2 separate regions of the Homo sapiens genome follow, and region 1 is linked to region 2. Evidence: fine-mapped expression QTL. A gene starts in region 2. The other region holds a variant in brackets. All regions are shown on one strand. Distances are between the middles of the regions.

Region 1 (5,373 bases), 24 kb after region 2:
GAATCTCAGGGCAAAGAGAACATGAAAGCTGTCCTGATTGGTATGAAGCCACCCAAAAAGAAACCTGCCAAAGACAAAAATCATGACGAGGAGCCCACTGCGAGCATCCACCTGAACAAGTCCCTGAACAAGAGAGTCGAGGAGCTTCAGTACATGGGTGATGAGTCTTCTGCCAACAGCTCCTCTGACCCCGAGAGCAACCCCACATCCCCTATGGCGGGCCGACGGCACGCGGCCACCAACAAGCTCAGCCCGTCTGGCCACCAGAATCTCTTTCTGAGTCCAAATGCCTCCCCGTGCACAAGTCCTTGGAGCAGCCCCTTGGCCCAACGCAAAGGCGTTTCCAGAAAGTCCCCACTGGCGGAGGAAGGTAGACTGAACTGCAGCACCAGCCCTGAGATCTTCCGCAAGTGTATGGATTATTCCTCTGACAGCAGCGTCACTCCCTCTGGCAGCCCCTGGGTCCGGAGGCGTCGCCAAGCCGAGATGGGGACCCAGGAGAAAAGCCCCGGTACGAGTCCCCTGCTCTCCCGGAAGATGCAGACTGCAGATGGGCTACCCGTAGGGGTGCTGAGGTTGCCCAGGGGTCCTGACAACACCAGAGGATTTCATGGCCATGAGAGGAGCAGGGCCTGTGTATAAATACCTTCTATTTTTAATACAAGCTCCACTGAAAACCACCTTCGTTTTCAAGGTTCTGACAAACACCTGGCATGACAGAATGGAATTCGTTCCCCTTTGAGAGATTTTTTATTCATGTAGACCTCTTAATTTATCTATCTGTAATATACATAAATCGGTACGCCATGGTTTGAAGACCACCTTCTAGTTCAGGACTCCTGTTCTTCCCAGCATGGCCACTATTTTGATGATGGCTGATGTGTGTGAGTGTGATGGCCCTGAAGGGCTGTAGGACGGAGGTTCCCTGGGGGAAGTCTGTTCTTTGGTATGGAATTTTTCTCTCTTCTTTGGTATGGAATTTTTCCCTTCAGTGACTGAGCTGTCCTCGATAGGCCATGCAAGGGCTTCCTGAGAGTTCAGGAAAGTTCTCTTGTGCAACAGCAAGTAGCTAAGCCTATAGCATGGTGTCTTGTAGGACCAAATCGATGTTACCTGTCAAGTAAATAAATAATAAAACACCCAACTGGGAGTGCTGACTTTGAGGTTATAGATTGTGCCTGACAAAAGTCTGTGCCTGTCTGACAGAGCTGTGGGTGGTATGTCATGAGGCCCTGAGGAGCTTAGCAGAGACATCTTTCTTTTCTTTAAGAGAACATTTAAAAATTTTTTTATTTGTACACATTTATGGGCTACATGAGAAACTTTGTTACATGTTTATAATGCATAGTGATCAAGTCAGGGCATTTAGGGTTTCTCACTGTACCCCAGGGCAGCCCCAGGGCTCTCCTTGGGCTTCTGGCAGCCTGAGTGGTGTCTCATCACAGGGAATTTTACTGAGCAAAGGCAGCTTGGCGTATACTGAGGGTGTACAGTCCAGGACCCACAGCATTGATCTCACCTGGGAACTTATTAGAAATCCAGATTCTCAGGCCAACCCTAGGCCCACTGAATTAGAAAGTCTGGGAGAAAGGCCTGGAATTTGGGTTTTAACAAACGCTGCAGGTGATTCTGATGCACGCTGGAGAACCACTGGATGGACAAAGGCTGCAGGACTTGAGGTCAGTCCATTTGACCCCCAATCTCTCACTATTTTGTGACCTTGGGAAGGTTACTAAGCCCCGTGAACCTCATCATCTCCCTGTGAATTGCTTTGTTACGATGTCCATGTCTGGAATGCAGCTGGCCCTCCATAAATGTTAGCTCTCTTTCCTTCTCACTTGGGTTAATGTTTGTTATCATCAGGAGCTGCCTTGGTGTAGCAGAAAGAGCATTGGCCTAGATTCCAGTGTTGGCTTATGCTCTGGCTATTTGGCAGGATTTAATAGAGCTTGTTAATAATTATTGAACAGTGATTAGGTGCCAGGGACTATGCTAAGAGCTTTCCATGCATTATCTCATTTAATCTGCCCAAAAACTACAAGAGAAATGTTCAGGTATTATCTCTATTTTATTCCAGAAAAAAACAGACTTTACTTGGGTAATTAACTTGTCTAAGGCTTAACAGCTAAATTGGTAGAGTTGGGCTTGAAACTAGTGGTCTGGCTTTGGAGCCCACACTGTTTAACCACTAAGTGGTACTCAACATTTCTGATCTTTACTATCCATATTCAAAAAAGAATCCACCATAAAAGGTGCTAATATTTATTCAGCACCTTCCTACGTGCTAGGCATTGGGTTAGACACATTTCACTTACTCTCAGTGTCCATCATAAGGAATTATTATGCCAGTATCACACATGCAGCTGCTGAAGTAGGAAAATAATATCCCAAACTTGTGAAAATGGACAAAGATAGTATATCCTAAATGATATGGCTCTATACAAATTAGCAGGTGATTGTGATCTGGATAGTAAGATGCTTTGTCCCTTAAGATGCAGAAGAGTTCGTGTTAACTGGCAAATGCCTCCAGCAATGTTCTGGATTTGCCATTTCCAGCACTACCAGCTGTAGGTAGCCTGAAGGCTTGTGCCTAGACCACCAGGACTCCTGACCTTGGGCAATGTCAGGGCCCCCTCCAGCCCCGCCCTATGCTTCCCTCCCTGACTCTGCTCCCATCACCCCCTGCCTGCTCCTTCCCTGCAGCCACTCCACCTGCTCCTTGGCCATCGGGCCATCTGGGCTTCACCAGCTCTTCTTGGCCTGTGACATTCAAGG[C/T]TGTTCCACCCTATTATGCCTGTTACACAAGTCACAGCTCTATTTTTAGATTAACCCTCGTGGATCATAGTTACTTTTAAAAATACCTACACCCTCACCTTTACATGTGAATACAGATGAACTTGGCCTTCCTTTGGTCGTATTGCCCTGTGTGACATTATAAAAGAACCCTGAAGTGGGGGTCAGCAGATCTGAGGTCGAGTCGTGGCTTTTCTACTAAGCAACTGTGACCTTCAGCAAGTCATTTATTTTATTGGTTCACAGTTCTTCCCACAAACCAGTGGATAACAAGAAGATGTTCCTTAAATAAGGTCATATATGTGCAAGTGCTTTCTGAATGGAAAAGTGCTTTGCAGGCATTAGTCACTACTTATCCTGCTGTCTGATCATCACCTCCAAAGGCAAGCCTCCTTTTGCTGCAATTCTTAACCCTGGCCTCACATTAGAGTCACCTAAAGAGCTTTTAAAAACTGCCTATGGGGCTGGGCACGGTGGCTCACGCCTGTAATCCCAGCACTTCAGGAGACTGAGGCGGGCAGATCATGAGGTCAGGAGATTGAGACTATCCTGGCTAATGTGGTAAAACCCTGTCTCTACTAAAAATACAAAAAAATTAGCCGGGCATGGTGGCACGCACCTGTAATCCCAGCTACTTGGGAGGCGGAGGCAGGAGAATTGCTTGAACCTGGGAGGCGGAGGTTGCAGTGAGCCGAGATCACGCCGCTGCATTCCAGCCTGGGCAACAGAATGAGACTCCATCTCAAAAAAATAAAAATAAAAATAAACAAACCTGCCTATGGGCCAGGCATGGTGGCTCATGCCTGTAATCCCAGCACTTTAGAGTTGCTTGAGGCCAGGAGTTTGAGACCAGCCTAGGCCACATAGCAAGACTGTGGCTCTACAAAGATAAAAAATTAGCTGGGCAGGGCGATGTTCGCCTGTAGTCCCAGCTGCTAGGGAGACTGGGGTGAGAGACTTGCTTGAGCCCAGGAGGTCAAGGCTGCAGTGAGCCAAGATCATGCCACTGCACCCAGGCTGGGTGACAGAGTGAGACCCTGTCTCAAACAAAACAAAAGAAAACAACCAACTACCTCTGGCCATCCCTGAGATATTCTGATTTAATTGGTTCTGGGGTGAGGCCAGGGCATGAGTATTTTTTAAAACTCCTGGTGATTCTTGCCTGTAATCCCAGCTACTCAGGAGCCTGAGGCAGGAAAATTGCTTGAACCCAGGAGGCAGAGGTTGCAGTGAGCTGAGATAGTCCCACCACACTCCAGCCTGGGTGACAGAGCGAGACTCCGTCTCAAAAAAATAAAATTAAAATAAAAATTAAAAAACTTGGCCAGGCATGGTGGCTCATGCCTGCAATCCCAGCACTTTGGAATGCCAAAGCGGGTGGATCATCTGAGGTCAGGAGTTCGAGACCAGCCTGACTAACATGGTGAAACCCCATCTCTACTAAAAATACAAAAATTAGCCTGGCATGGTGGTGCGTGCCTGTAATCCCAGCTACTCTGGAGGCTGAGGCAGGAGAATCGCTTGAACCTGGGAGGCAGAGGTTGCAGTGAGCCGAAGTCGTGCCATTGTACTCCAGCCTGGGCAACAAGAGCAAAACTCCATCTCAAAAAAAAATTAAAAAATAAAAAATAAAATCTCCTAGGTGATTCTAATAGGCAGGCAGCATTGGAAAGCTCTGGCCACTGGAATGAGGAGCACATTAATTCCCTCCTCCTTTCTCAAGGCTTAGTCCTGGTCTCTTGTAGGCATTCCAGGGGTCTGAGCACCTTGTTGATGAACCTGCTCCTTCTAACTCTCTGGCCAAATCTTCAGCTGGGGCATGGGCTTCCTGTTTGTTAGCATAGCCGGCCTTTCTTGAATAGCTTGACTGAGAAACTCAGCCAATGGTATTTTTACAGATGTTTCATTATTTTTAATGAAAACCAGTTCCTTCTCCACACTGGGACACGAGGCCTGGTGACCATCTCCGCTTGAGGTGCTGGCAGAACATCTACACGCTACACATATCCAAAACACCACTTTGTCCACCCTCCCTCCCGCTCCATACACATGCCCATCTGCTCCTTCTCCTGACTTCCCCATCTCAGCCAGTGGCATCACCATCTCCCATGTCACCCAGACTGGAGATGAGGCCATGTGGAATACGTGAAGAATGCAGGTTCTGAAGACCAAGTGACCTTTGACTAACAACTGAGCCTCCCTATGTCTCAGTTTCCTCTCCAATAAATAATAGATAATAATAGTAGATAATAATAATTCCTATTTCATACAATTTGTTAGAATTAAATGAGTCAGGCCAGGCGTGGTGGCTCATGCTTGTAATCCCAGCACTTTGGGAGGCCGAGGCAGGTGGATCACTTGAGGTCAGCAGTTCAAGACCAGCCTGGCCAACATGGTGAAACTCTGACTCTACTAAAAATACAAAAATTAGCCGGGCCTGATGGTGCATGCCTGTAGTCCCAGCTACTCAGGAGGCTGAGGCAGGAGAATCACTTGAACCTGGGAGGCGGAGGTTGCAGCGAGCCGAGATCGAGCCACTGCCCTCCAGCCTGGATGACAAAGTGAGACTCCATCTCAAAA
Region 2 (5,373 bases):
CTCCCTGCAATGATGTTCAAGACAGGCCTGGGTGGGACTGGCCTCCCTTCCCCTGCCACGGCTCTGGGGAGGAATAAGCTGGAAATCGAAAGGAGCCCTTTAAAAGCCCTGGTTTCTTCACCAGTGACACAAATGATGGGTATGTGGGTAGGACTAATCAAAGCAAATCAGCAAGTGTTCCTAGATGAAGGCTCCCTGCTAGACAAAATCGGGTGCAACAAAGTGGAAGAAGAGGCCCTTCCCTCTAAGCCTCACTGGGACTCACTCTCCTCATTGCAAACGTGATCGAGTTGGACTTCTCCCATGAAATACCCCTAGTGCAAATGAGGGTTTCTGTCCTCCGCTCCTCTAGGCATTATTCTAAGCCAACTACTATAAATGAGAAACTTATGTGAGTTGCCTTAAACATTCCGTGCAAGTTTTGCATTTGATTTCACAGATATTCCAAGTTGTTTTAATATATACATTGTGGCTGTTCTCTCAAATAGCTAAGTAAAATTGATACCCCAGAAAGATGCCCCATATTTATGCTATGACTTAATGGGTACCCCTAAGAGTACCCATTCTTGGGTACTCTGCCAGACTACCCATTCCCTACCAGGAGCAGCTCCGAGCTGGATGATGTCTGACATTCTTTCTAGATCCAAAATTCCTTTATGAGGAGTCAGAAATAAGTAATAACAGAAACAACATAGGCAGATATGTTTGAATGTAAGGACATATAAATTCAATTTCTTTTTTTCAAAACTCTCACCAAGTAAAACGCTTCTACAGCCCAGATTCACCCACCAACTGTCAGTTTTCAAACTGTATTTTCAGAATCTATATTTTAAGAAAAGTCCCCAGGGGACTCTTATGATCAGGCATTTGGAAACCCTGAAAAGACATGTATGAATTGTTCATAAACTATAAAACCTGAGATGAATGTGAGCCATCATTGTGGGTAAGGATAACAACCCCTGATGTCTTTGCCACACGAGATGGCTTAAATGAGATAGATAATGGGTATCACTTTGTGAAATTCAGGAACCGAAATTATCAAACTGGAAGGCATGGTGGCTGCTGCAGCTCTTTCCTTCTGAGCCTCATCACAGGTGTTTGCAGAGGATCTATAGCCCTGGAGGGAGGCACAGCTGGCTGGAAAAAGACACTGTCAGCCTCTTGCCTCTTCCTTTCCCAGTAGCTCAGATCCAGGGCTGTGAGCTGTTCTGGTGCAGAAACAGCAATAGCACCAAAGGTCTCTCTCTCTTCCTTTACTTACTTATTTTAGGACCTCTTCTATCAAAACAGAGGTCCGACAAAGAAAGGGACACAGATTCTAGTGTCCTTAAGAAGAGGGGCTGTCCTCGCTGGGCCCCTGGGTCTCTCCCCAGCCCTGCCCAGACACCCAGGACCCTATACATGGTGTTCTTTTACAAGGACACTGCCCTCCAGGAGACCTCATTTCCTAAGCCTATCCTAACTTGTCTTTCTATATCAAAACAAATGTATTGGTCCAGGGTTCTGTTGTTTTGGGGTCCCAGTGTGGCAAATTAATATGATAAATTATGTTTAAGGCTCTAAATAAAGTGCTACATGAAAGCAGATTCAGGTCTTATTCATTTCTTTTTCTTCTTTCCTTCTTTCTTTTTTTTTCTTTTTCTTTTTTTTTTTTTTGAGACGGAGTCTCGCTCTGTTGCCCAGGCTGGAGTGCAGTGGCACAATCTCGGCTCACCACAACCTCTGCTTCCCAGGTTCAAGTGATTCTCCTGCCTCAGCCTCCCGAGTAGCTGGGATTACAGGCACGTGCCACCACGTCCAGCTAATTTTTGTATTTTTTTTAGTAAAGACAGGGTTTCACCATGTTGGCCAGGATGGTCTCGATCTCTTGACCTCGTGATCCGCCCGCCTGGGCCTCCCAAAGTGCTGAGATTACAGGCTTGAGCCACTGCGCCCGGCCGGTCTTATTCATTTCTATGCTCCTGTCCCTAGTTTCTGGGTCACATTTGGAGAGGTGAGATGGAACTCAATTTGAAGTTACACGTGAAAAGGTGGCAGTGTTTTAGAACATCCTGACATTTCAATAGCTCCCTTTATTCATTCAACAAACATCTGAGTGCATACTATGTGCAGGGCATACTCTATAGGCCATCGGCTTTCGAACTTTTGTGAACTTCAGCATCACCTAGAGGCCTTGTTAAAACACAAAGTTCTGAATCATAGATTCTGATTCAGGAGGTCTGGATGAGCCCTGAGAATTCAATTTCTAACAAGTTCCCCGGTGCAGCTGATGCTCCTGGTCTGGGAACCACACTTGGAGAAAAACTGATACAGGGCAAGGCAGGAGCCAAGCCCCTGACCTCCTAAGACGCGGTCTAGGGTGGTTATTATGTCAAGGAGACTAACGATGGAAATTTTCTGATCTTGGCAGGCCAGTGGGGGAGACACGCAGGAGGCCTGGAAGCCCCTGGAGCTGTGGTCTCTGGCTGCCACCCCCGGAGTCAAGCACAAACAGAAGTCAGCTGTGCTGCGCCCATCCCTGCGGCGCCGTGAAAGAAGGCGCAGGAGGAGGGAGCCCTGACACCTCCTCTCGGGCTGGGGCCCCACAGCGGCGAAAAGACGGAGGGAGTGATCGGGGGTCGCGGGGATCCTTCCGGGACGGGCCTCCGTCGGAGGAGCTCCGGAAAGCCGCCCTCCACCTCCGAGGCCCCGCCTGCGCGGGCGCTCCACTAGCGGTCGGGGTGGTGGCGGCGGCGGCGGCGGCGGCGGCGGCGCGGGGCGGGGCGCCGCGACCCCTGTCCCTCCCCTGGGCCGAGCGGCAGGCGCGCTCGCACCGCCCCCGCCCCCTCGTCGCAGTCGCTGCCGACCGGCTGGCTGGGCCTTGCGGCGTGAGGACCCCGGCGGCGCCGCAGTCCCGCGAGCCATGGCCCAGTCCGGCGGGGAGGCTCGGCCCGGGCCCAAGACGGCGGTGCAGATCCGCGTCGCCATCCAGGAGGCCGAGGACGTGGACGAGTTGGAGGACGAGGAGGAGGGGGCGGAGACTCGGGGCGCCGGGGACCCGGCCCGGTACCTCAGCCCCGGCTGGGGCAGCGCGAGCGAGGAGGAGCCGAGCCGCGGGCACAGGTAGGCGCGGCGGCTGGCCCGGGAGGTGGGCCCCGAGGGGGCGCCGGGCCGCGCGCGAGTTCGGGGCGCTGACTGCGCGCGACAACTCCTCGGGCAGAGGGGGTTGAGTCAGCCCCGCCGCCGGGGAAGCAGCTCCGGGCCGAGCCCCTGAGTCAGAACCGGCCCGTGGAGGCAGCCGGTGCCCCAGCCCGCAGCTTCGTCGCCCAACCGAGGCTCCCAGGGCTGGCGGCCGGGATCTGAGGGGCCTGGACGTGGGGATGTTCAGGGATCCAGGAGGAGGACTTTCACGGGCCATCCAAGCCACCCCCTCCTCTGGAGGAGGCCTCTTCTCTGTGGGCTCCCTCAAGACACCACCTCCCCATCGCCGCAAAGTCCATCCCTACCCGCCTTCCCCTCCCCTTGCGAGTGGTCCCGCTTACCCTTCACTGCCATCATCGCCCTGCCTTTCCCAGTCCTGCTGGCTGCGCTCAGTCTTTAGGTGGTAGCAGGCCAGGTACAGCGGACACTTGCTGATGGGGGATTCCAGGAGGTGGGATTTCAAGGTAATTTGAGACGGATAGAGGACTTGCTGCTTTACTTCCTCCGCCCTGGGGGATTCCCATTTTCACACAGCCTTTCCCACCAGACCTTTATGTTTGCATCATCTTGCTGCCTTGCGGGGGGCGGGGGGGGGGTGTTCCTGGGTTTTGGGTAGTTTGGAGCTGCTATGGCACTTGTTTAACCTTGTCCCGGGTCCCGAGCTTTGTCCTCAGGCACCTTGGCTCCTGTCCACTAATGCCCAGGCCCTTAAGGACTGGTGTTTTGTTCCTGCTGTTGAAAGGAGATAAAACATAGACATAGACATGAGAGTGGGGAAATGACAGAACTTGCACATTCTGGTGGATGCCAACAGGCACTTATTAGGAGCTCTCTTTCTTCTAGGACCCTGTCCCAGGCGTTTAGCTGTTAAGGTTCTGCAGGATTGTCCTGGCAAGCGTATATCTACTTCACTGGGAGAATACTCAACTCAAGGGTGGAAGAATACTGGGCCCAGAGCCATTCTCTATTACTGGCTCACCCTTCCCCAGGTTAAAGGGTCAGACTTCTGGACCCAGAGATTCGGGGCAGACCAGTAGAGACAGTTGTTAGGGGAGAAAAGTCAGCCCACCAGGGTAGGGCAGGAAAGCTGGACCATAGTGTATGACAAAGTAGATAGATCAGTGCTTTATAATGCAAGGCCTGATTCGTTTAGCTCTGTGCCAAGTACCGAGAGCATAAAAATGATGAACCCTTAGTCACTGACAGCTCACAGTCTCGAGAAGGCAGTCCCCTAGTCAGACAATATCAGAGTATGTAAAATAGCCCCAAGTGGTTTATCCTTATAACTTTATTTTCCTGTGGCAGTGGCAAATAGCCATCCCTATCCTGAGGGCTAAATTTGTGAGATTGTATCATTAGCCAGGATTAAAGCTCTACTTATGTTTAAGGCCTGGAAAGATCCCCTATGGAGGTCTAGGAGAAACCAAGCCTCAGTATGGGTAGGCCTCTTGCCTGAACCCCTCTTGCTCTTCCTCCAGAACTGCCCAGCTCCCGTGGCTTGAGTCTCAGCAAGTGTTCAGTCTGAAGCCCTTCCTGCTGCCCACTGGCATAGAGTTGACCCCAGAAAATCCCTGGGGTTCTTCGGTGAGCTGACAGAGCCCAGTGGGCAGGCACCCAGAGCAGGAGGAGATGTAGCCAAGAACAGGATCCACACTATCCCCTGTTTGGACCCAGGCTCGCATGGCAGCAGCCATCACCCGATGTGAATGTTCTCAGCTCCTGGAGCCTACAGGAGAAAACCCAGATTCCTCAATCTGCTCATTAAGATGTGACACCCACTCACATCATCTCCTCAGCCCATTGCCTCAACAGTTCACGCTGTCAACAGTTCACGCTCCCGTGATTCCAGCTAGTTCCCTGAGCATAGGGGGCTATTTTGTGTCTACATGCCTCTGCACCCCCACCTCTAGGTCCTCTGATTGACTGATTTCTAGTCAGCCTTTAAAACTTCGCTGCCTCTTCTCCACCACCCCCAATCCCCACCCCAGAGCTGGCTGTGTTTCCTTTCTTCTCTGTTGCTGTAGTACTCTGTACATTTTATGCCTAGCACCTTCCACAATTGTGATTCTATCATTGTGTCTCCCTCACAGGAATAGGAGCTCGGTGAATTCAAGGACCATGCTTGCTTCGTTCATTGTATCTTCAGCACCTAGCACAGCACCCAGCACATAGGACATGTTTGTTGACTGAATG

Direction of the effects. Alleles are on the strand shown, and positions count from the first base shown. SD is a standard deviation of normalised expression in the study named.
With allele C in place of T in region 1, the expression in cerebellar hemisphere of the gene that starts at base 2,834 in region 2 is higher (moderate effect, 0.57 SD a copy in GTEx).

The links. PIP is the estimated chance that this variant, and not a neighbour inherited with it, causes the effect.
Region 1: its variant is fine-mapped to the expression of LARP6 in cerebellar hemisphere (GTEx, PIP 0.99).

Annotation. Positions count from the first base shown.
Region 1 is chr15:70,827,321-70,832,693 of GRCh38, reverse strand. LARP6 (La ribonucleoprotein 6, translational regulator) reads left to right here. Exons shown (of 3, transcript NM_018357.4): 3 at 1-3,564. The coding sequence ends at 642. Among named protein-coding and RNA genes, the nearest start is that of LARP6, 24 kb to the left of the region's middle. The variant C/T (reference allele first, on the strand shown) is at 2,776.
Region 2 is chr15:70,851,618-70,856,990 of GRCh38, reverse strand. It overlaps LARP6 (La ribonucleoprotein 6, translational regulator), which reads left to right and starts at 2,834. Exons shown (of 3, transcript NM_018357.4): 1 at 2,834-3,102. The coding sequence starts at 2,903. It also overlaps a transcript of LRRC49 not described here. RefSeq lists an enhancer at 2,944-3,445.